Linked DNA regions of Homo sapiens. The protein of the gene in region 2 purifies or fractionates together with the protein of the main gene of each other region. This does not show direct contact. Each region holds a gene or a part of one and is shown on either strand. Other genes may lie near its edges. The genes, in order: PRPF39 and TRNAU1AP.

Region 1 (11,468 bases), on a different chromosome or scaffold from region 2:
CTACAGTTTTCCAAAATTTTTCATATTCTGGAGGGAAATTTGCTTCTGTTTCTGTCAGCGTCACTGGAAGGTCCACAGCACTTGCCATTTCAGTTTCTTCTGTAGATGCATTCACATTGGGAGAGTCATCAGGTGACTGTTCCATTTCTGTAACGTTCATAATCTCAGTACTGAAATCAGTAGGATGTTCTACCACTACCTCTGAACTGTTGCCTGTGCTGCCATTACTAGAATTTCTGTATTCATCCATGTGAGAATTTTGCATATTGTCTTCAGTTAACGATCTGTGGAAACACGAAAAAAAGAGAAATATCTTCCAAATGCCAATAAAATTATTTGGCCTCAACAACACCTTTTAAAAAGCCCTAATTTAGCTATTAAAGAAATATTAATGTGAGTCTTAATCCCCTACAAGTCAGAATCAGAAGGTTCATTAGTTTTTATATTGTAAATAAAATTATAAATTCTTCACAAAACTGCCATTTTGTTGTTGGTATTTGAATGAAAACCAAATAACTGTGGATTTGTTACCTCATTCAAACAACAAATAAGTACACTGCCTGCTACCCAATGAAGAAATACTATTTAAAATTCAATGTTTCTTATTTAGGTAAGAATCTGATTCGGTGCCTGAATGTTACCTTGCTATCAATCACTGGAAAACGGCATATCTTTAACAACTGTTCTGGAGGCTAAAAGTAAAACTGACAAAAATTCTGGTCATGGGTATAAACATTTCAAAAGGAAGCTCATCACTTGGCTCAGGATAAAGTTTTAGAAAAGATAAAATCATATTGCTTAAATATATCTATATACTTACGATTTATAAATCCTGACAGCTAGGTTTCAACTTTATTATATAAGATATAAATTATGGCTTTAAAAAATTAAACAGTAATTTTTAAAGTGAATAAATGTTACTTAAAACACATTTAAGGGGCCAGGCATGGTGGCACACAGCTGCAGTCCCAGCTACTCAGGAGATGCTGTGGCAGGAGGATCACCTGAGCCCAGAAGTTCAAGGCTGCTGTAAGCATTGACCCTGCTACGATACTCCAGCCTGGGCAACAGAGCACGACCCTACCTCTAAAAAACATATTTGAGAAAGGCTTACAGTCTGGATAATAACTACATAATATACTTAAAATTATGTCATCTAATTTTTAAGGCTATAAGGTAATAAGCAATTACCCCTTTAAGGTAATACCACATTATATTTTCATAATTACCTTCATCTCTTCCACTAACAGCTTAAATGGAAACCAAATCATTAAATTATAGGGCATGTCTCATTTTTTTTAAAATGAGGAATTATTCTCAAAATTAAGCAGACCATAAAACTGATTTACTCTTAAAATATACTTAGAATATACTACTACTTAATATATTAATAGTAGTTAATTAAAAAGATGACTAAAACTTTAAAGACAATAATGCAAAGGAAGAAATGCAAATGACCAATAAACATAAAAAAGACCTATATCTTTACTAATAAAGACATAAATCAAAATAATGAGTGTACCAAATAGCAACTGTACATATTTTATACTATGGAAATAATCAGAAAAAACATGTATTTGTTTAAGGGCATTCATTACCAGCACTGTTGTACAGCAAAACTGGAGGGTGTATTAAGAAAAAGACTGCTTTGGCCGGGCGTGGTGGCTCATGCCTGTAATCCCAGCACTTTGGGAGGCTGAGGCAGGCGGATCACCTGAGGTTGGGAGTTCGAGACCAGCCTCACCAACAAGGAGAAACCCTGTCTCTACTAAAAATACCAAATTAGCCGGGCGTGGTGGCACATGCCTGTAATCCCAGCTACTCAGGAGGCTGAGGCAGGAGACTCTCTTGAACCTGGGAGGAGGAGGGTACAGTGAGCCGAGATCATGCCATTGCACTCCAGCCTGGGCAACAAGAGTGAAACTCCGTCTCAAAAAAAAAAAAAGAAAAGAAAAAGACTGCTTTAATAAATAGTATACTCGGCCAGGCACGGTGGCTCATGCCCGTAATCCCAGCACTTTGGGAGGCCGAGGAGGGTAGACCACCTGAGGTCAGGAGTTCAAGACCAGCCTGTCCAACATGGTGAAACCCCATCTCTACTAAAAATACAAAAAATTAGCAGGGTGTGGTGGCACACGTCTGTAGTTCCAGCTACTCGGGAGGCTGAGGCAGGAGTATCACTTGAACCCGGGAGGTGAAGGTTGCAGTGAGCCAAGATCGTGCCACTGCACTCCAGCCTGGGCAATACAGTGAGATTCCGTCTCAAAAAAAAAAAAATAAATCATATATAATGGAATAATAAGAATTAAAAAGGAAATATGTACATCTGTATTGATACAGAAAAATATCCATTATAGATTTTTTAAATACATATATATGCATACACACATGCACTCACAGATTTGTAAGGATTTACACCAAATAAAATAAAATACAAAACTGGCAGCTGGTGTTAACAATTGTTCTCCATACAAAAGAGAGATGTGTGCTTTATTCTTTTTGCCTATCTGCAATTACTTAACTGAATGGGGGGAGAAGTTTTTTGTTATTTTTTTAAAAAGCCAGCTATAAGTTGACTGGATACATTTTTTTTTTAACAATTTTATGACTACCATACTATAAAAATCTGAGTTTCACTACCGTCTATGCAGAAATTTGCAAATCTGGCTCCAAACAAGTCAACTAGTAAGCTGTTTAAAACTAATATAGATTCCTTACCGACTACAATGATTCTGAGGTCTAGGGAAGGGCCAAGAAAGTTATACTTCTACCAAGTTCTCTAAATAATTCAGAAAAACAGAAACTTGTTTGTGGGTAAACTCTGGAGAGTATAACTTTTGGATTGAAGAATAATACTAAATTTGGAAAGATGCTGACGACTTTTTTTTTTTTTTTTTTTTTTTTGAGACAGAGTCTCGATCTGTCACCCAGGCGGGAGTGCAGTGGCGCAATCTCGGCTCACTGCAGCCCTCGCCTTCCGGGTTCAAGCGATTCTCCTGCCTCAGCCTCCTGAGTAGCTGGGACTACAGGCACGCACCACCATGCCCAGCTAATTTTTGTATTTTTAGGAGAGACGAGGTTTCACCATGTTGGCCAGAATGGTCTTGATCTCCTGACCTCATGATCCGCCTGCCTCGGCCTCCCAAAGCGCTGGGATTATAGGCGTGAGCCACCGTGCACAGCCGATGCTGACAATTTCTCTCTGGAAAAGTTGCACTAGTCATCTGGCAGACACTGTTAGTTGCCTACCCAATATCCCTTCTCACTATTAGTAATTTCCTTACTAATAAAATACTGATTTCATTCAAAGCAGCAATATAGTTAATCTCATGTAAGTGACCACAAAACTGAAAAGAACATCAGCTGCAGAGCTCTGAGAAAGCTTCTGCTTTTTTGATAAAAAGGGACAATCACAACTAGTGTGGTCCTTCCTTCTACCAATTTATTCTTACCTTGGATTTGACCATATCTGAAACGATTCATGTCCATGAAGTAGTCTATAAGGGATTGGCCAAGAAAATTAAGAAATACCAACCTTGACATCATCAAGCTCTAACAAAATGCCACCTTCCTATTGTGTAAGGAAATAAATTCCTATTTGTTTAAACTACTATCAATATACAAGTTTTCTATTACTTTGAGACAAAATGAATTCCTAACCAATTAAGTCATCAACAGTGCATGAGACTGTCCATTGCTTTATATCCCCGGCAACAATAGCTATCATTTGCTCATCTAATTTTTTTTTAACAAAGTAGCACCTCATTTTGATTTTCATTTCCTTAACTATGAGTAAGTAAAATTTTTATTTCTTTTTTTCATAAATGCCTTTTCACATCTTTTGCCCATATTTTCTGTTCATTACTAATTTTTTTCTTATTGGTTTGTATACACTCTTCGTAAACTAAGAAAGCCAGATCTCTGCAAAATTGTAAAATATTATTATAAGTTTGTCATATTAGTTTTGCATTCGGGGTCATGTGTCTATGTGTGACCCTTTAAAATTGTCACACGGATACAAAACCCAGATTCTAAAACATTTCCATCATTTCAAAATGTAGCATGGCCAGGAAAGGTGGCTCACACCTATATCCCAACACTTCGGGAAGCCAAGGTGGGTGGATCGCTTGAAGCCAGATGTTCCAGACCAGCCTGGGGAACAAAGTGAGATTCCATCACTACAAAAAAATCTAAAAATTAGCTGGGCACAGTGGTGTGTGCCTATAGTCCTAGCTACTGAGGAGGCTGGGGTGGGAGAATCACTTGATCATCCAGTAGTTCAAGGCTGCAGTGAACTACGATCACACTACTGCACTCCAGCCTGGGAGACAGAGCAAGATTCTATTAAAAACAAGGAAAAAAGAAAAAGAAAGAACAAATAGTATGAAACCATTTTTTTCCTAAGCCTGGGAGACAGAGCAAGATTCTATTAAAAACAAGGAAAAAGAAAAAGAAAGAACAAATAGTATGAAACTATTTTTTTCCTAAGAAAGAATAAATTTTAAATGTTAAAAGACCTTCTGAGTCTGAATGCCATTGAAAGAATTAGCTATAACCAGGTAAATCTAGGGAATACACAAAAATTTGAAAGGAAAAAATGGGACATGTGGGGATGGGGGAAGGGGACAAAAAATTTTCAATGCCTGATGGATGTCCAGCACTGTATTACATTCCTCGTAGTGACATATAAGTGTAAGATAAGGTCCTTACTCACTAATGTCTATTAACCAGGTAGAGAAAGAGCTAACACACAACACATACACACACACACAAACACATACACACACACATTTGGAGATAAGCTCTCAAATGAAACAAAGTGAAAGATTATTGAAAAAATCATTTGAAAACAATAGCAATCTATAGATGAAAACATGAAATATAATTAACTTTGAAAAATTATGGAATAATAGAAAAAGAATGGTAAACTATTCTAGAATGTGGAACAACCCATTAAACAACTCTCCTTGACAGCAGACAAGAAGGTAGAAATGATGACTGAAAAGATAAGAGAGACACAGAATGACCAGAATGAAGAGGTTGGTATTGAGAAGTAGAAGGGTAAAAGCAAAGTAGCATGGAGCCATATTATGGACAAAAGAATTTGAGAAAAAATTACAGAAAAAGCAAATCTAGCCAATGCATAATAAAAGAGAGTCCAAAGTAGTAGACTACCAGAAAAAATAAGTTCCCTTCTAGTTCAATGTATGATTAATGTCATCAACTTTTCCAAGTTTAATCACTTCAGGCCCTAGGAAAAGGCAAAGTAACTTGTAAATTTATTTTGTTCTTTTTCCCTCTTCCTTTAAAGAAAAAGATACGTTTGAAGATTAATTTTCCAAATGCAAATTAGTCACTAGTTTGTGGTTTTGTATTTCAGAGCTCAGTCTAAAAACAAAATACAAAAAAGACTGTAGGCTGATACATTCTGAGTCATTAACTAGCTACCCTATTCTAATTTCACACTTAGGTGAGACATAAGGGTTTCTTCTGGAATCAGCAAATTTACCACACCCCTGCATCTTCAGAGCCTGTCAATTACTCCACACCCTGCAATCACAGTGTTGTAAAAAGATTTAAGAACATCAACCTTATGCTTATAGAGATCATTTTGATGATTACTTCACAAATCACAGAGTCAAAAGAATACACTAAAGTTATTTTTTAATGAGTTACTCCAACATATTATTTATATGTCAATTATTATCAGTTTATTCTTAACAACAACCAATAATTTTCAACTAGCAACATAAAATGGGAAAGGGTACAGAATAGCTATCAAAAGAAAGAAATAAAACGGGCCAGGCATAGTGGCTCCTGTCTGTAATCTCAGCACTTTGGGAGGCCAAGTAGGCCGATCACCCATGAGTTCCAGACCAGCCCAGGCAACATAGCAAAAACCATTCTCTACAAAAAAATACAAAAATTAGCCGGAGGCTGAAGTGGGAGTCAAGGCTGCAGTGAGTCGTGATCGTGCCACTGCACTCCAGCCTGGGTGACAGAGCCAGACCCTGCCTCAAAAAAAAGAAAGAAATCAAGTGTGATACTGACATAAAAACAGTCAAATAGGCCAATGAAATAAAGAACACAGAAATAAACTCCCTTCTCAAATGGCCCTCAACAAAGTGCTAAGACTGCTCATTGAGGAAGGGATCGTCTCTTCAAATGGTGCTTGGAAAACTGGATATCCACGTGCAAAAGAATGAAGTTGGACCCTGGTCTTATACTACATGTAAAAATTAACTTAAAATGAAGTAAAGACCTAAATGTAAAACCTAAAACTATAAAATTCCTAGAAGAAAACGTAGGGGAAAGCTTAATGATACTGGACTTGGCAGTGAACTCTTGGATAATGCCAAAAGCACAGGCAAACAAAAGCAAAAACAGACAAATAGGACTACATCAAATTTAAAAGCTTTTGTGCATAAAAGGACACAATCAGTGGAGTGAAAAGGCAACCTACAGAATGGGAGAAAATATTTGCATATCATATCTGTAATAAGGGGCTAAGTAATCATCTCTTCACTGTATCAGTAATTTTCAAACTGTAGATTGCTTCACACCAGTTTCTTGAACCTTTCTTCAAATGGAAAATAGAATAGAAAAAAATTTTAGCACAGTGCTTTGCATAGTAAAAGTATATGGTTTTATGACACTTTAATGTAATAATACATATACATGTGTAATTCAACTACTGTGTATCGAGTTGCCTGGCACACAAAGACACTCATTATTTCTGAAGAATGAATGAATGAAAGCATGTCATCTGCACTGCTATAACTTCAATTACTAGCTATTAATGATAATAAGATATGCTATTTATTGAGCAAATATTTTGTTAAATGCTACTTTCCCTTTTAAAGATGACAAAACCAAAATTCATTAACGTTAAATAACTTGTCTAAATGTACATGAATAGTAAGAAACAGAGCTAAGATTCAACCTCATCCTAACACCAAAACTCTTGCCTCTTCTCTACTAACTTGTACAGCCCAGACATTCTATTTCTGTTGAGTTTTGCTTTCTGTTTTTTCCAATTCTGTTCCTTTCAGCTTAGGAACCTTAGTACATGCAGTTTCTTCTACCTGAATGCTTCCTCATCCCTTTACCTGACACCACACTCTGACTCAGTGCCTTCAAACTAACTAAAGCCTAATCTTCTGGGCAAAGTTTGCTTTTTAATTTTTTTTTCAACAATTGCTCAGAGAGTAGTTGTTTTCATAATTAATCCAAAATTGTCCTAAGAAATGCCATCATCACAGTGGGCAAAGTTTAACATCATTTCCTGAAAAGTGTTATCATACCCCCCAAATAAATTAGGTTGCCCTCAATCATGCCCCAACAGCATTCTTTTTCTCCATAGCACATAACACATTTGTGATACTTGTTCAATGTGTATCTTCTCTACCAGATTACACAATTCTTGAGAGTAAGGACCATATCTACCAATACACAGGGATACAGTACACCTGGAGGCCTAGTATACACTCAATTCATTGAACAATAAACAAGTAACATTAGTCTTCAGTAACCCATACTAAAACCCAGTATATTGCTTTCATAACCAAATGGGAAGTGATAAGTACTTGGGTTTTAGAGGCCAGAAGAACACTTATGAGGCCGGGCGCAGTGGCTCACGCCTGTAATCCCAGCACTTTGGGAGGCTGAGGCGGGCGGATCATGAGGTCAGGAGATAGAGACCATCCTGTCTAACACGGTGAAATCCCGTCTCTACTAAAAATACAAAAAAAAAAAAAAAAAAAATTAGCCGGGCATGGTGACGGGCGCCTGTAGTCCCAGCTTCTCAGGAGGCTGAGGTAGGAGAATGGTGTGAACCCAGGAGGCGGAGGTTGCAGTGAGCCGAGATAGCGCCACTGCACTCCAGCCTGGGTGACAGAGCAAGGCTCCATCTCAAAAAAAACAAAACAAAACAAAAAAAAAACAGTCTTCTGGCTACTCATTAGGGAACTCTGAGCCAATTACTTAACCTCTCTAAGCCTCATTCACAAAATATTCAAACATACCTCGGTATAAAAATGAATGATCCCCTATCCCACGATGTATACAATTAAGATCTGTCCATCAAAAAAAATAATACACTCTGGGCCACCCATGCAGTGGCTCAAACCTGTAATCCCAGCACTTTGGAAGTCGAGGTGAGAGGACTGCTTGAGTCCAGGAGTTCGAGACCAGTCTGGGCAACATAGGGAAATGCTGTCTCTACAAAAAAATTTAAAAATTAGCTGGGTGTGGTGGCACGCACCTGTAGTCCCAGCAACTTGGGAAGCTGAGGCAGGAGGATCACCCAAGCCCCAGGAGGTGGAGGTTGCAGTGGGCTGACCATGTCAGTGCACTTCAACCTGGGCGACAGAGCGAAATAATACACCTTAAAAAATTAACTATCCCCTTCTTTCCATTCACACTACTAGTGTTATAATTTAAGTATTTATTTTCTCCCCTCTGGATCAATGTTTTCAAATGCAGATTGCTTCAAACCAGTTTCTCATTTTTTAAATGTAGAAAAACAGATATACCACAGTGAATGCACACATTAAGGGCACACTGTTGAAGCACACACAATTGAACTGTTTATTGAGTTAGTGATGTCCATGTACATCTTATTGTGGGCTGCAGTAAAAAAAAAAAAAAAAAAAAAAACTGAGAAACACTGCTGCACTACTGCAAACTAATATTACTCGAATATTAAATTTCCTGATCACAGCTCAACAAGAGTAAAAGGAAAAAAAAATTAAATTGGGTGAGAATGAGGCCTTATCAGTTTTGTTCACCGCTGTCCCCCTTGAACCTGAAATAATACTTGCCGTGTAACAGCACAACAAATATCTCTGAATGATATATCCAGTCTCAACTTAACTTTCCAAAAGTATTAATCTTACAATACTCCTCCTCATTGCCATTTCCAGAGTCCCTTAGATTTTTCCTTTCTGAGCCTTGACAAAAGCTGTTCCCCCAGACTAATAAAAGTCCTCCCTTTTTCAACTCACCAAACCAGTCGATTCCTTTTCACTACATTACACTTTATTATAAAATCATATGATAGGCACAAAGGACACAAGTATAAAATGAAACATAACATAAAGTGAATAGGCAATATATAAAAAATACATTTATCATACCTTTCACTTTTAGTATAATTATGACGTACATTAAGTATTTCAGTGACAATTATGCCATCTTAAAATTTAAAAGGTCTTTTGGAGGATGACTTCAATTACTAACACTTAATTAAAAATGGGACATTTGGGCCGGGCACGGTGGCTCATGCCTGTCATCTCAGCACTTTGGGAGGCCGAGGCAGGCAGATCACCTGAAGTCAGGAGTTCTAGACCAGCCTGGCTAACATGGTGAAACCCCGTTTCTACTAAAAATACAAAAAATTAGGCGTGGTGGCGCGCATCTGTAATCCCAGCTACTGGGGAGGCTGAGGCAGAAGAATGACTTGAACCCGGGAGGCGGAGGTTGCGGTGAGCCAATAGCGCCATTGCACTCCAGCCTGGGCAACGAGAGTGAAATGCCATCTTTTGACCTAATACCTTTTTTTTTTTTTCTGTATGCCTCTTATTCCTGTAGAGGTACTTAAAAATTATACCATTGACTATTCTTTTTCATAAACACAGCAATATATAAAAATCTGAAGTCATCACTAAAGACTGAAAGGAGTTTTGGGTAGAGCAAAACAAGTAGCTTTGCAATAAGCAAATCTCATCCACAAGGCAATCTGGAGATTTGGGATGTAAGAAGAAAAGAGACTATCATAACCACTGGTTTTGGCAGCTGTTTTTAAGGGCTAAGTAGTCACACGCCGACTTTTTAAAGTCTCTACATATTAAACACTGTGTTCCAGAAACTAGATTTTGTATATGTATTTACATAAACGTCTACATCAATCTTCGGCTTTTTGGAAAACGTACCATTTGGCTGGAACTACACTACCTTCTTCCTCCTTCGGCTATTTTTAATTTTTTTTGAAGTCCTATCTTCCATGTAGATTTGTTAAAACATACCACAGAAAACAGCACATACAATTTTTATCATTTGACTTTTAAACATCTTCTTTCTTATTCAATTATAAGCAAGGAAAAATATTCTGAGACTTTACACAAATAGTGTCTCATACCACCTATGAGCCATCTATGCTCAACCCCTACTTCAAAGTTCACAATCTAAGTACTAGTCCTCTTTAACAGAACTCCTTTCCATCACTTTATCCCTACTAGAGAGTGAACAGTGGAAAGTTCCAACTTTTGCAACTCTAGAATGAGGTTATAAATCTAGAGGGAGGAGGAAAACCTGACAGTAGACGCTTGTTCTTTTCACTCCATTCAAGCTCCCATACAGCCTAAAACACTTAAGTTTCAACATGAGCTTCATACGTCCCTGTCCAAAACTTGCTTTCTCAAGCCTCACGCTTTCCAGCTGTAGCAAAGTTTATTTCTGAACAGATTAAATCAGTTGCTAAATAATCTGAAGTCCTCAAACAGAAGGCCATATGAGTATCAAACGAAAAAAACAACATTTGAATCAGCATAAATTCACATGGTATTATGGCATCATTACTAATACACTGAGCAGTATTATTTATTAACTTCAAGTATTAATTAACTTAAAGATGTGATTTTGGAGAAAAACACCAGTGGTGGTCTCTGATTACCAAAGTTAAACATTCTTAAGCACAATCCCTTAAAAAATCCTGCCAGGATCAATGATGTGTTTTTTCTGTTTTAAAGTATCCTGCCAAAAGCTGTGGGTGCTGTGACTTAGGGTCGCAAAAGTGTTGCTTATGTAGTCAGAAGACAGAACGTGCCCTACAAGGCGCTCACATGCCTTAGTAATAGAACGTATATTATCTTCCCAATCCTCTGGCGGCTGCAAATGTGCTCCTTCCACTTCCAGCCACCCCAGCCGTGTTCCAGCTCCGGGAGAAGCAAGGGCTTTAGAATTACCCCCAAATATCTTCCTAAATCCAGGCGAAGGAGGCCCACACTTCTCCACCCTACCTAACGCACCCCTCAAGTGAAACGTTTGGTCTAAGAAAAAAATACCTTGCACCGCTCCACCCAACAGGTGGGAAGGAGAAAGGAATGGACAGCTGAGCGCTGAATCCGAGCCAGGCCTCAAACAGGGCGGGAGAGGGAGGCCGCGGCCAGAGCGCGGCCTGAAACCCGGCAGGCCCCTTTCAGTACCAAGTACCACCCTCTGCCCCAGCTAATTTCAAGGAGCCCGCCCCAGCAGACCTTATGATGGATGCCACTTGATGCCATGAGCCGGAGCCTGTGACGACCTAGCCGAAGATGGCACTTCACCGCCTCCGTCCCCACAGCCAGCACAGCAGCCGCCACCCGCGCCACGGCCGCCTGGTCCAGGGCACGATGCGCATGCGTCAGTGTCCCTGGAGGCGAAAAAGTCACGTGGGTTCGCAGCGCGCAGGCCTGGCCCTCCCAGGGATC
Region 2 (11,570 bases):
GCTAACACAGTGAAACCCCATCTCTACTAAAAATGCAAAAAAATTAGCCAGGCGTGGTGGCGGGCACCTATAGTCCCAGCTACTAGGGAGGCTGAGGCAGGAGAATGGCGTGAACCCAGGAGGCAGAGCTTGCAGTGAGCAGACATCACGCCACTGCACTCCAGCCTGGGCGACAGAATGAGACTCCGTCTCAAAAAAAAAAAAAAAAAAAAAATTAGTCGGGCGTAGTGGTGTGTGCCTGTAGTCCCAGCTACTCGGGAGCCTGAGGCAGGAAAATTGCCTGAACGCGGGAGGCGGAAGTTGCAGTGAGCTGAGATCGCATCAATGCACTCCAGCCTGGATGACACGGTGAGACTGGGTCTCAAAAACAAACAAAAAAAAAATATACGAAAATTAGCTGGGTGGGGTGGTGTGTGCCTGTAATCCCAGCTACTCGGGAGGCTGAGGCACAAGAATTGCTTGAACCCGGAGGGAGAGGTTGCAGTGAGCCAACATCACGCCACTGCACTCCAGCCTGGCAACACAGCCAGACTCCATCTCAAAAAAAAAAAAAAAAAAATACAAAAATTAGCAGGGCGGGCTGGGCACAGTGGCTCACGCCTGTAATTCCAACACGTTGGGAGGCCAAGGCGGGTGGATCAGGAGGTCAGGAGTTCTGACCAACATGGTGAAACCCTGTCTCTACTAAACAAAAAAAAAAAAAAAAAAAAAATTAGCCAGGCATAGTGGCACATGACTGTAATCCCAGCTACTCAGGAGGCTGAGGCAGGAGAACTGCTTGAATTTGGGAGGTGGAGGTTGCAGTGAGTCGAGATCATTCCACTGCACTCCAGCCTGGGCGACAGAGACTCTGCCTCAAACCAAAAAAAAAAAAATTAGCTGGGTGTTGGCCGGGAGCGGTGGCTCACGCCTGTAATCCCAGAACTTTGGGAGGCCAAGGTGGGTGGATCACGAGGTCAAGAGATCGAGACTATCCTGGCCAACATGGTGAAAACCTGTCTGTAATAAGAATACAAAAATTAGCTGGGCATGGTGGTATGTGCCAGTAGTCCTAGCTACTCGGGAGGCTGAGGCAGGAGAATGGCTTGAACCCGAGAGGTGCAGATTGCAGTGAGCTAAGATTGCGCCACTGCACTCCTGCTTGGTGACAGAGCAAGACTCTGTCTCAAAAGAAAACAAAACAAAACAAAACACCAAGATTATAGAAAAGGAGAAAAGATAAGACCCAAGGAAAAATAATATGTAATATAGTCTGGGTGACAAGAGCGAAACTCTGCCTCAAAGTAAAAAAAAAAAAAAAAAAAAGAAACATGTAAGAAACAAGAGTTCCATATCTTATTTCTTTTCTTTTTTTTGAGACAGAGTCTCACTTTGTCGCCCAGGCTGGAGTGCAGTGGTGTGATCTCCGCTCGCTGCAAGCTCCACCTCCCGGGTTCACGCCATTCTCCTGCCTCAGCCTCCCGAGTAGCTGGGACTACAGGCGCCCGCCACCATGCCTGGCTAATTTTCTTGTATTTTTAGTAGAGACGGGGTTTCACTGTGTTAGCCAGGATGGTCTCGATCTCCTGACCTCGTGATCCGCCTGCCTCGGCCTCCCAAAGTGCTGGGATTACAGGTGTGAGCCACTGTGCCTGGCCCATATCTTATTTCAATAAACAGTAAGGTTGGTCCCAGTGGCTCATGCCTGTAATCCAGCACTTTGGGAGGCTGAGGCGGACAGATCACCTGAGGTCAGGAGTTCGAGGCTAGCCTGGCCAACACAGTGAAATCCCATCTATACTAAAAATAGAAAAAATTAGGCCGGGCGCAGTGGCTCACGCCTGTAATCCCAGCACTTTGGGAGGCTGAGGCAGGCAGAGGTCAGAAGATTGAGACCATCCTGGCTAACACAGTGAAATCCCATCTCTACTAAAAATACAGAAAATTAGCTGGATGTGGTGGCACACGGCTGTAGTCCCACCTACTCAGGAAGCTGAGGCAGGAGAATCGCTTGAACCTGGGAGGCAGAGGTTGCAGTGAGCTGAGATCGCACCACTGCACTCCTGCCTGGGTGACAGAGCGAGACTCCGTCTCAAAAAACAAACAAACAAAAAAAATGAGCTGGGCGTGGTGGCAGGTGCTTGTAATCCCAGCTACTCAGGAGTCTGAGAGAGGAGAAGGGCTTAAACCCAGGAGGCGGAGGTTGCAGTGAGCCAAGATGGTGCCATTGCACTTCAGCCTGGGCAACAGAGGGAGACTATGCCTCAGAAAAAAAAAAAAAAAAAAGATTAAAATGTGAGAATCTATGCCAGTGTTTTACTTATTTATTTTTGCAACAAAGTTTCCCTCTGTCACCCAGGCTGGAGCACAGTGGCACAATCTCGGCTCACTGCAACCTCTACCTCCTGGGTTCAAACGATTCTCCTTCCTCAGCCTCTCAAGTAGTTGGAATTACAGGTGTGTCTCACCACACCTGGCTAATTTTTGTATTTTTTTAGTAGAGACAAGGTTTCACCATGTTGTCCAGGCTGTTCTCAAATTCCTGACCTCAAGTGATCTGCCCACCTCAGCCTCCCAAAGTGCTGGGATTACAAGTGTGAGCTACCGTGCCCAGCCTATGCCAGTGTTTTAAAAAGTAGAAAGGGGCCGGGCGCGGTGGCTCACACCTGTAATCCCAGCACTTTGGGAGGCCAAGGCAGGCGGATCACGAGGTCATGAGATTGAGACCATCTGGCTAACATGGTGAAACCCCATCTCTACTAAAAATACAAAAAATTAGCCTGGCGTGGTGGCGGGCGCCTGTAGTCCCAGCTACTTGGGAGGCTGAGGCAGGAGAATGGCTTGAACCCAGGAGGTGGAGCTTGCAGTGAGCCGAGATCGTGCCACTGCACACCAGCCTGGGCCACAGAGCAAGACTCCGTCTCAAAAAAAAAAAAAAGAAAAAAAAATGAGAAAGGTTACAGAATGAATTTTCATACCAGTAGCTGATTATCTGGGGTTTTCTGCTTAGAAGAGCAAGAAGAGAAATATTTAGGTGGGCACGATCTACCAGTCAGAAAAACCTTTTCCTAGGTAATGGGGTTCTGAATACACAAAGTATCTTTCAAATGTCTCATCTCTATTTTTAAACCATTTGATGTTTTAGCAAGCCACATGTAGTAGAGTACCGAGAAAAGAGTGGCTGCTTGGAGAATGGCGTGAACCCAGGAGGCGGAGCTTTCAGTGAGCCAAGATCGCGCCACTGCACTCCAACCTGGGTAGTGACAGAGCGAGACTCCGTCTCAAAAAAAAAAAAAAAAGGAAAAGAGTAGCTGCTTGATAAACACTGACAAATTGATAATTCCCTAAGGAAAACTAAGACCTCAAAGAGAAAGAAGAACATGGAGGCAATAGAGAACCTCTATCTGAAAATACGCATTTGGTTATGTTTACTTATTTATTGTCTCATTCCCCACTAGAATGTAGTAAACTCCATGAGCAGGGGCTATATCTGGATTATTTCAGCCAGGAATGTATAACAGTAGAACACAGTAGTATCTCCACAGATAATTTTTTTTTTTTTTTTGAGATGGAGTTTCGCTCTTATTGCCCAGGCTGGAGTGCAATGGCGCGATCTCGGCTCACTACAACCTCTGCCTCCCAAGTTCAAGCGATTCTCCTGCCTCAGCCTCCCAGGTAGCTGGGATTACAGGCATGCACCACCACGCCTGGCTAATTTTTGGTAGAGACAGGGTTTCTCCATGTTGGTCAGGCTGGTCTCCAACTCCTGACCTCAGGTGATCCACCCTTCTCGCCTCCCGAAGTGCTGGGATTACAGGCATGAGGCACCGCACCCATCCTCCACAATTTTTTAAATGAATGGCATAAGAGTTAAGGGCCCTCATGAGCTTTCAGGATAGACTCGAATTCAAGTCCTGACTTGTTATTTATTATAACTCTTTTTTTTTTTTTTTGAGACAGAGTCTCAGCTGTCGCCCAGGCTGGAGTGGAGTGGAGCGATCTCGGCTCACTGCAAGCTCCGCCTCCTGGGTTCACGCCATTCTCCTGCCTCAGCCCCCCAAGTAGCTGAGACTACAAGTGCCCGCCACCATGCCCAGCTAATTTTTTTTGTATTTTTAGTAGAGATGGGGTTTCACCGTGTTAGCCAGGATGGTCTCAATCTCCTGACCTCGTGATCCGGCCTGCCTCGGCCTCCCAAAGTGCTAGGATTACAGGCGAGAGCCACTGCGCCCGGCTATTTATTGTAACTCTTCAAGTTATTAAGCCTCTTCATAATAGTATTTACCTACCTCAGAAGTTTCTGAGGTTTTAAGGAGATAATGGATGTAAACTGCTTATTACTCAGCAGATCGTAATCTGACTATACTTACTGAGCATATGCTATATGCCATACACTGTCCTAATGATGAATGTGAATTAACTCATTTAATCCTCACCATAACTCTAGGAGGTAGGTGCTGTTATTTCCATTTTTATACTCAAAGTGAATGAGACAGAGCAGTTAAGTAACTTACCCAAGGTCATAGAGTAGAAATAGCTTTCAAACCCAGTCTCGCTTGAGTCCTGCGTTTTTTGTTTTTTTGTTTTTTTTTTTTTTGAGACATTGTTTTGCTCTTGTTGTCCAAGCTGAAGTACAGTGGCACGATCTCAGCTCACTGCAACCTTCGCCTCCCGGGTTCAAGTGATTCTCATGCCTCAGCCTCCGGAGTAGCTGGGGTTACAGGTGCCTGCCACCACACCCGGCTAATTTTTGTATTTTTAGTAGAGACGGGGTTTCACCATGTTGGCCAGGCTGGTCTCAAACTCCTGACCTCAGGTGATCCACCCACCTCAGCCTCCCAAAGTGCTGGGATTACAGGTGTGAGTCACAACGCCTGGCAAGTCCTACCCTTAAGCTACATGCCATCCTTCCACTCATTGGGACCTCAAAATGTTAGCTGTTATAATTTTACAGTGACTATTACTAGGGGTAGTGAGAAGCCATGACTACGATGTTTACATTCTCGTACATGACAGCTGCAACGAGATGTATTAAGAGAGACCTGAGATGAGACTTACCCAGTGAGGCGGTTTCGGATAATTTTGACGCTCATTACGGTCTCCCCCATGGTGGCAAAGGCTCTGGAGATGAAGTTCTCATCCATGTAGGGTTCCAGCTGCGTAAAAACAAGAGCACAGCGGCTCAGGCCGGCGGCCGGGCTTCCCACTCCGGGTTCCAGAGCCCCTCCCGTTCAGCCCAGGGCTGGCTACGCGCCGCTGGGGGAGCGAGGGGCGAGGTTCGCCTCCACTGAGCGGCCTGAAACCCCAGCTCTTTTGGTTCAAGCTTGCCCCGCTTTAGGGAGCCTCCCCTTGGACCTAGAAACCCCACTCCTCCGGTCCCAGAACAGCGCGCCTCAGTCCTTGGATTGCTCCCATTCTATGTCCCCAAAGCACCACCTTTCCCTCCCACGAACCCAGGTGGGGCCCCAGGACCCCTAGCCTCACGGACTCAGCCTCTTCACTTAGATGCTGGAACCCGCTTCTGTGTCACCAAAAAGAACCCCCGTCACACGTCTCCCCTTTCTGGGATCCCAAGTCCCCTCCCACTCAGATCCTTCCTCTCTCGCGAAACCGAGATGCTTCCTTGTCTTCAGACCCCGGACGGCTGCCCTCACTCACGTCGCCCATCCACAGGCTGGCCGCCATACCCGCGCACCGGGGTGGGGCTTTGCGGGCGGGGCTCTGCGGGCGGGGCTCGAAGGCCCGCGCGGGCGCCAATCCTGGCTGCGGAGACCGCTACAGAGCATGCGCCTCCGACGGCTTCTGCGCAGGCTCCCGAGCGCAGCGGCCCGGGTCGGGCAGTGTGTTCAGCTCCGGGTTTTTCCTGCAACCCACTGGGCGCTAGGCTTCCGGATCGCGGTGGGCGGAGTTCAGGCTGGAATGGGGCGGGCCAGATACCACCTGGCCCAGGCGGCTGGGTTACTTGGGTTTATTTCTGACTTTATATATTTAGAAAACAAACAAAACTACACACACACACTCGTCTGACTTTATATAGAAAACAAAACCACACACACACAGACACATATAATTACAACATTAATATATGCTCGTTAGGGCTGGGCACGGTGGCTCACGCCTGTAATCCCAGCACTTGAGGAGGCCGAGGCGGGCGGATCACGAGGTGAAGAAATCGAGACCATCCTCGCCAACAGGGGGAAACCCCCTCTCTACTAAAAGTACGAAAATTAGCGGGCGTGGTGGCGAGCGCTGGTAGTCGCAGCTACTCGGGAGACTGAGGCAGGAGAATCGCTTAAACCCAGGGGGCAGAAGTTGCAGTGAGCCGAGATAGCGCCATTGCACCGCAGCCTGGTGACAGAGCAAGACTCCATATATATACATACACACACACACACACATACACATATATATACACATATATACACATATACACACATAATACACATATACACATATATACACACATACACATATATATACATATATACACACACACACACACATATATATGTATGCTCGTTACTTGGGTTAATTTCTGACTTTACATATTTAGAAAACAAACAAGGCCGGGCGCGGTGGCTCACGCCTGTAATCCCAACACTTTGGGAGGCCGAGGTGGGCAGATCACGAGGTCAGGAGATCGAGACCATCCTGGCCAACATGGTGAAACCCCGTCTCTACTAAAAATACAGAAATTAGCCGGGTATGATGGTGTGCACTTGTAGTCCCAGCTACTCAGGTGGCTGAGACAGGATAATCACTTGAACCCGGGAGGCAGAGGCTGCAGTGAGCCGAGATCGCGCCACTGCACTCCAGCCTGGGCGACAGAGTGAGACTCTGTCTCAAATTAAAAAAAAAACAAAAAACAAAAAACATACACACGTACACACACACACAAACACACACATAATTACAACATTAATATATGCTCGTTGTAAAAAACTGCAGATACAAGTGCATCCAAAAAAGTGAAAATATCCCTCCGGACAACCCGGTTCCACTACCTCCCTATTGTTACCAGGGGTTCTTAGGCTCTCAATCCAACAGAAATTAACATGAGGCCAAAAAAGTTTTCCCAGACAAGTCTTCATTGGAGCTTATGCCTGGGTATAAGGGAGGCAGCACAAGAGAGCGAGAATTCCCTGACTCTCCGAAAAGAGCTGGTTGAGATGTTTTATTGGGCAAAGCACGGAAAGTGATATCAAGTGTAGGGTTTACAGGCTGGGCAGGACAAAGCTCATGAGGGTGGGGTATGAAGGTCAGCATATCCTGTTGTAATGATTATCTTTTTTTTTTTTTTTGAGACGGAGTCTTCCTTTGTCGCCCAGGCTGGAGTGCAATGGCACAATCTCGGCTCAGAATAGCTAGAATCTAGCCTCCTGGGTTCTAGCTATTCTCCTGCTTCACCTCCTGAGTAGCTGGGATTACAGGCGCCCACCACCAGGCACAGCTAATTTTTGTATTTTCAGTAGAGACGGGGTTTCACCATGTTGGTCAGGCTGGTCTCGAACTCCTGACCTGAGGTGATCCACCCACCTCGGCCTCCCAAAGTGCTGGGATTACAGGCGTGAGCCACCCATCGCGCCCAGCCAATGATTATCTTTAGTACTGGGCTACCTGGTAGTTTGGCTGTCAGCAACAAGGCTGTAAATGAAGTTTTCAGCATTTCTTCCTGAGATGAGACATTCCACAACCTTGGTTGGATAATTTGGATCTCCTAAGGCCAGATCCTAGAATTATTTTTATTTTATTTATTTATTTATTTATTCAGTTGGTCAGTCATTCTGAGAGAGGGTCTCTCTCTGTCGCCCAGGCTGGAGCGCATTGGCACAATCTTGGCTTATTGCAGCCTCAAACTCCCGGACTCAAGTGATCCTCCTGCCTCAGCCTCCAGAGTAGCTGGCACTACAGGTGTGCACCCCCACAGCTGGCTAATTTTTTTTTTTTTGCAGAGAGGAGAGCTCACTATGTTGGCCAAGCTCATTTTGGACTCCTAGGCTCAAGCGATCCTCCTGCCTTGGCCTCCCAAAGTGCTGGGATTATAGGTGTGAGCCACAGCGCCCAGCCTCTTTTTTCTTTTCTTTCTTTTTTTTTTTTTTTTTTTTTTTTTGTTTGAGACGGATTACAGCCACCTGCCACCATGCCTGGCTAGTTTTTTTTTTTTTTTTTTTTTTTTTTTATTTTTAGAAGAGGCAGGGTTTCACTATGTTGGCCAGGCTGGTCTAGAACTCCTGACCTCATGATCCCCCCACTGTGGCCTCCCAAAGTGCTGGGATTACAGGCGTGAGCCACCACGCCTGGCTTCTTTTTTCTGCTTTCTTTTTTTTTTGTAGATCCTGGAATTCTTTAATTAAAGGGCATGGTTACACATTATAAGAGCACAAAAGAACAATATATAATGGCTATTTTTCTTTATATGACTAAAGCCTCAGAGTTAGTGGGTATGGTGGTGTGGGTTTTTGTTTTTTCTTTTGAGACAGAGTCTCGCTCTCGCCCTGGCTGGAGTGCAGTGGTGTGATCTCAGCTCACTGCAAGCTCCGCCTCCCAGGTTCATGCCAGTCTCCTGCCTCAGCCTCCCAAGTAGCTGGGACTACAGGCGCCCACTACCATGCCTGGCTAGTTTTTTTGTATTTTTAGTAGAGACGGGGTTTCACCGTATTAGCCAGGATGATCTCAATCTCCTGACCTCGTGATCCACCCACCTCAGCCTCCCAAAGTGCTGGCATTACAGGCGTGAGCCACCACGCCCACCAATTTTTTTGTATTTTTAATAGAGACGGGGTTTTGCCATGTTGGCCAGGCTGGTCTCAAACTCCTGTCCTCAGGTGATCCATCTGCCTCAGCCTTTCCAAGTGTTGAGATTACAGGCGTCAGCCACCATGCCTGGCATCCTTATGAGAATCTAATACCTGATGATCTGTCACTGTCTCCCAACAACCCCAGAGGGGACTGTCTAGTTGCAGGAAAACAAGCTCAGGGCTCCCACTGATTCTACATTATGGTGAGTTATATAATCATTTCATTATATATTACAACGTTACATTAATAATAATAAAGTGCACAATAAATGTAATGCGCTTGAGTAATCCCCAAACCATCCCCTGTCCGTGGAAATTGTCTTCCACAAAACCAGTCCCTGGTGCCAAAAAAGGTTGGGAACTGCTGCTCTAGTCTTGGTGAGCTGAAGCCAAGCCCTGTTCTTACTGTCTCACTGTGACCCAGGGCAAGCCACTGCTCTGTGCAAGCCATTCCCTCACTCCAGGTTTACCAGTCTGAAAAACATGAGTCTTGTTGGAGCCGGAATGGGATTCTTCCTTCATTCCCATATAGGGCCCTGGGGTGGGAGGTGGGAAGAATTAAAAGGAGTGTAAATTGGAGTAACCTTGTCATCTGGCAACCAATCAGTCCCCAAGTTCTGTCACTCTATTTTTATTTATTTATTTATTTATTTTTGAGATGAAGTTTTGCTCCTGTTGCCCAGGCTGGTGTGCAGTGGTGCTATCCTGGTCACTGCAACCTTTGCCTCCTGGGTTCAAGCGATCCTCCTGCCTCAGCCTCCCAAGTAGCTAGGATTACAGGCTGGCGCCACCACGCCCAGCTAATTTTTGTATTTTTAGTAGAGATGGGGTTTCACCATGTTGGCCAGGCTGGTCTTGAACTCTTGACCTCAGGTGAACCACCTGTTTGGGCCTCCCAAAGTGCTAGGATTACAGGTGTGAGCCACAGCTCCCGGCCTCTATTTTCTTGAGTCCCACTACCCTACTCCAAATCACCTGGAGTTCTGACTAGTCCCAGAACAGTGACCTGCCCACAGTGTGCCGTCATAAACACAATTTAGATGGCTAGACAATCCAGACAGTTTAATTTTGAGATGCTCCTACTCTGGGAGTATCCCAGGCCTCTGACTTACTTTGGTGCCCAGTCGTCAGTATGGAAAGCTTCTTCTGTATGTAGTAATTGGCATCTCTGACAGTGAAACCCACTCCAAGTGTTTTAAGGCCACTTTCTGGGGCTCCCTCTGGACTAATGGGCACCCAAAGTCCTTTCCTACCAGTCTATACATCCTCAACTTAGGATGTTGTGCTCTCAAGCCAGAGACTCATCAGTCTGAAAACCTGAGGTTCAACCACGAGTTGCCATATTTCTGGCCGTATCCTACCATCACTGCAATAGTAGTGTAGTGGTTAGGCATTTTGGCTGTAGATTCAAACAAATGGAGCATAATCCCGGCCCCACCTCTTGCTAATTATTTATTTAACTTCTGGGCCTAATGTGGATAGTGCTTACTTACCCCACAGGGTGGTTGTGAGGAAAAAAATAAGTTGGGAAAGTACTTGGCCCAATGCCTAGCATTCAGTAAATCCTCCAACATGGCAGTTGGAAGCCTTAAAATTATAACTGACAGCTATTAATTTAGTATTATTTGCCAGTCACTGTGCTGTGCTCTTTATTAAAAAAATTTATTTTTGGCCAGGTGCAGGGGCTCACACCTGTAATCCCAGCACTTTGGGAGGTGGAGGCAGGCAGATCACCTGAGGTCAGGAGTTTGAGACCAGCCTGGCCAACATGGTGAAACCCCATCTCTACTAAAAATACAAAAATTAGCTGGGCATGGTGGCACGTGCCTGTAATCCCAGCTACTCAGGAGGCTGAGACATGAGAATTGCTTGAGCCCAGGAGGCGGAGGCTGCAGTGAACCAAGATCATGCCACTGCACTCCAGCCTGGGGGACAGAGAGACACTCTGTCTTAAAAAAATGGAAAGAGACAGTGGTCTCTTACCCTCTGCCCCCGAATTCCCACTCCCTTGAGTCGACTATTTCCAAGTCTTTTTCCTAGAACCTACCTGTGTATTTTAAAATATATACTTTCTACTACACTACTTTTTTACTTGCAGTTTCAGGTATTTAGTGGCTGCCCCCTCCCCATATACATAGACACTTATCTCTCCATCTCCTATGTTTTCTTTTCTTTTTTTTTTTTTTTCGAGATAGAGTCTTGCTCTGTCACCCAGGCTGGAGTGTGCAGTGGCGCGATCTCGGCTTACTGCAAGCTCTGTCTCCCAGGTTCACGCCATTCTCCTGCCTCAGCCTCCCAAGTAGCTGGGACTACAGGCACCCGCCACCACGCCCGGCTAATTTTTTGTATTTTTTTAGTAGAGACGGGGTTTCACCATGTTAGCCAGGATGGTCTCGATCTCTTGACCTCGTGATCTGCCCACCTCAGCCTCCCAAAGTACTGAGATTACAGGCGTGAACCACTGCGCCTGGCTTTTTTTTTTTTTTTTTTTTTGAGATGGAATTTAGCTCTTGTTGCCCAGGCTGAAGTGCAATGGCGTGATCTTGGCTCACTGCAATCTCCTCCTCCCGGGTTCAAGCGATTCTCCTGCCTCAGCCTCCTGAGTAGCTAGGATTACAGGCATGCGCCACCATGCCCAGCTAATTTTGTATTTTTAGTAGAGATGGGGTTTCTCCAAGTTGGTCAGGCTGGTCTGAAACTCCCAACCTCAGGTGATCTGCCCACTTCGGCCTCCCAAAGTGCTGGAATTACAGGCATGAGCCATCGTGCTCGGCCTCTTTTTTGTTTTTGAGA

The links.
Region 1: the proteins of TRNAU1AP (region 2) and PRPF39 purify together in Homo sapiens (affinity purification with mass spectrometry; 3 studies listed by BioGRID and IntAct, with this or other methods). This does not show direct contact.

The regions. Positions count from the first base shown.
Region 1 is NC_000014.9:45,084,037-45,095,504, reverse strand, and holds the start of PRPF39 (pre-mRNA-processing factor 39), read right to left. Parts: upstream 11,390-11,468; 5' UTR 11,256-11,389; intron 7,263-11,255; exon of another isoform or gene 7,197-7,262; intron 285-7,196; 5' UTR 266-284; coding exon 1-265. UniProt on the Homo sapiens protein: Involved in pre-mRNA splicing.
Region 2 is NC_000001.11:28,547,205-28,558,774, reverse strand, and holds the start of TRNAU1AP (tRNA selenocysteine 1-associated protein 1), read right to left. Parts: upstream 5,691-11,570; 5' UTR 5,665-5,690; coding exon 5,638-5,664; intron 5,136-5,637; coding exon 5,038-5,135; intron 1-5,037. UniProt on the Homo sapiens protein: Involved in the early steps of selenocysteine biosynthesis and tRNA(Sec) charging to the later steps resulting in the cotranslational incorporation of selenocysteine into selenoproteins. Stabilizes the SECISBP2, EEFSEC and tRNA(Sec) complex.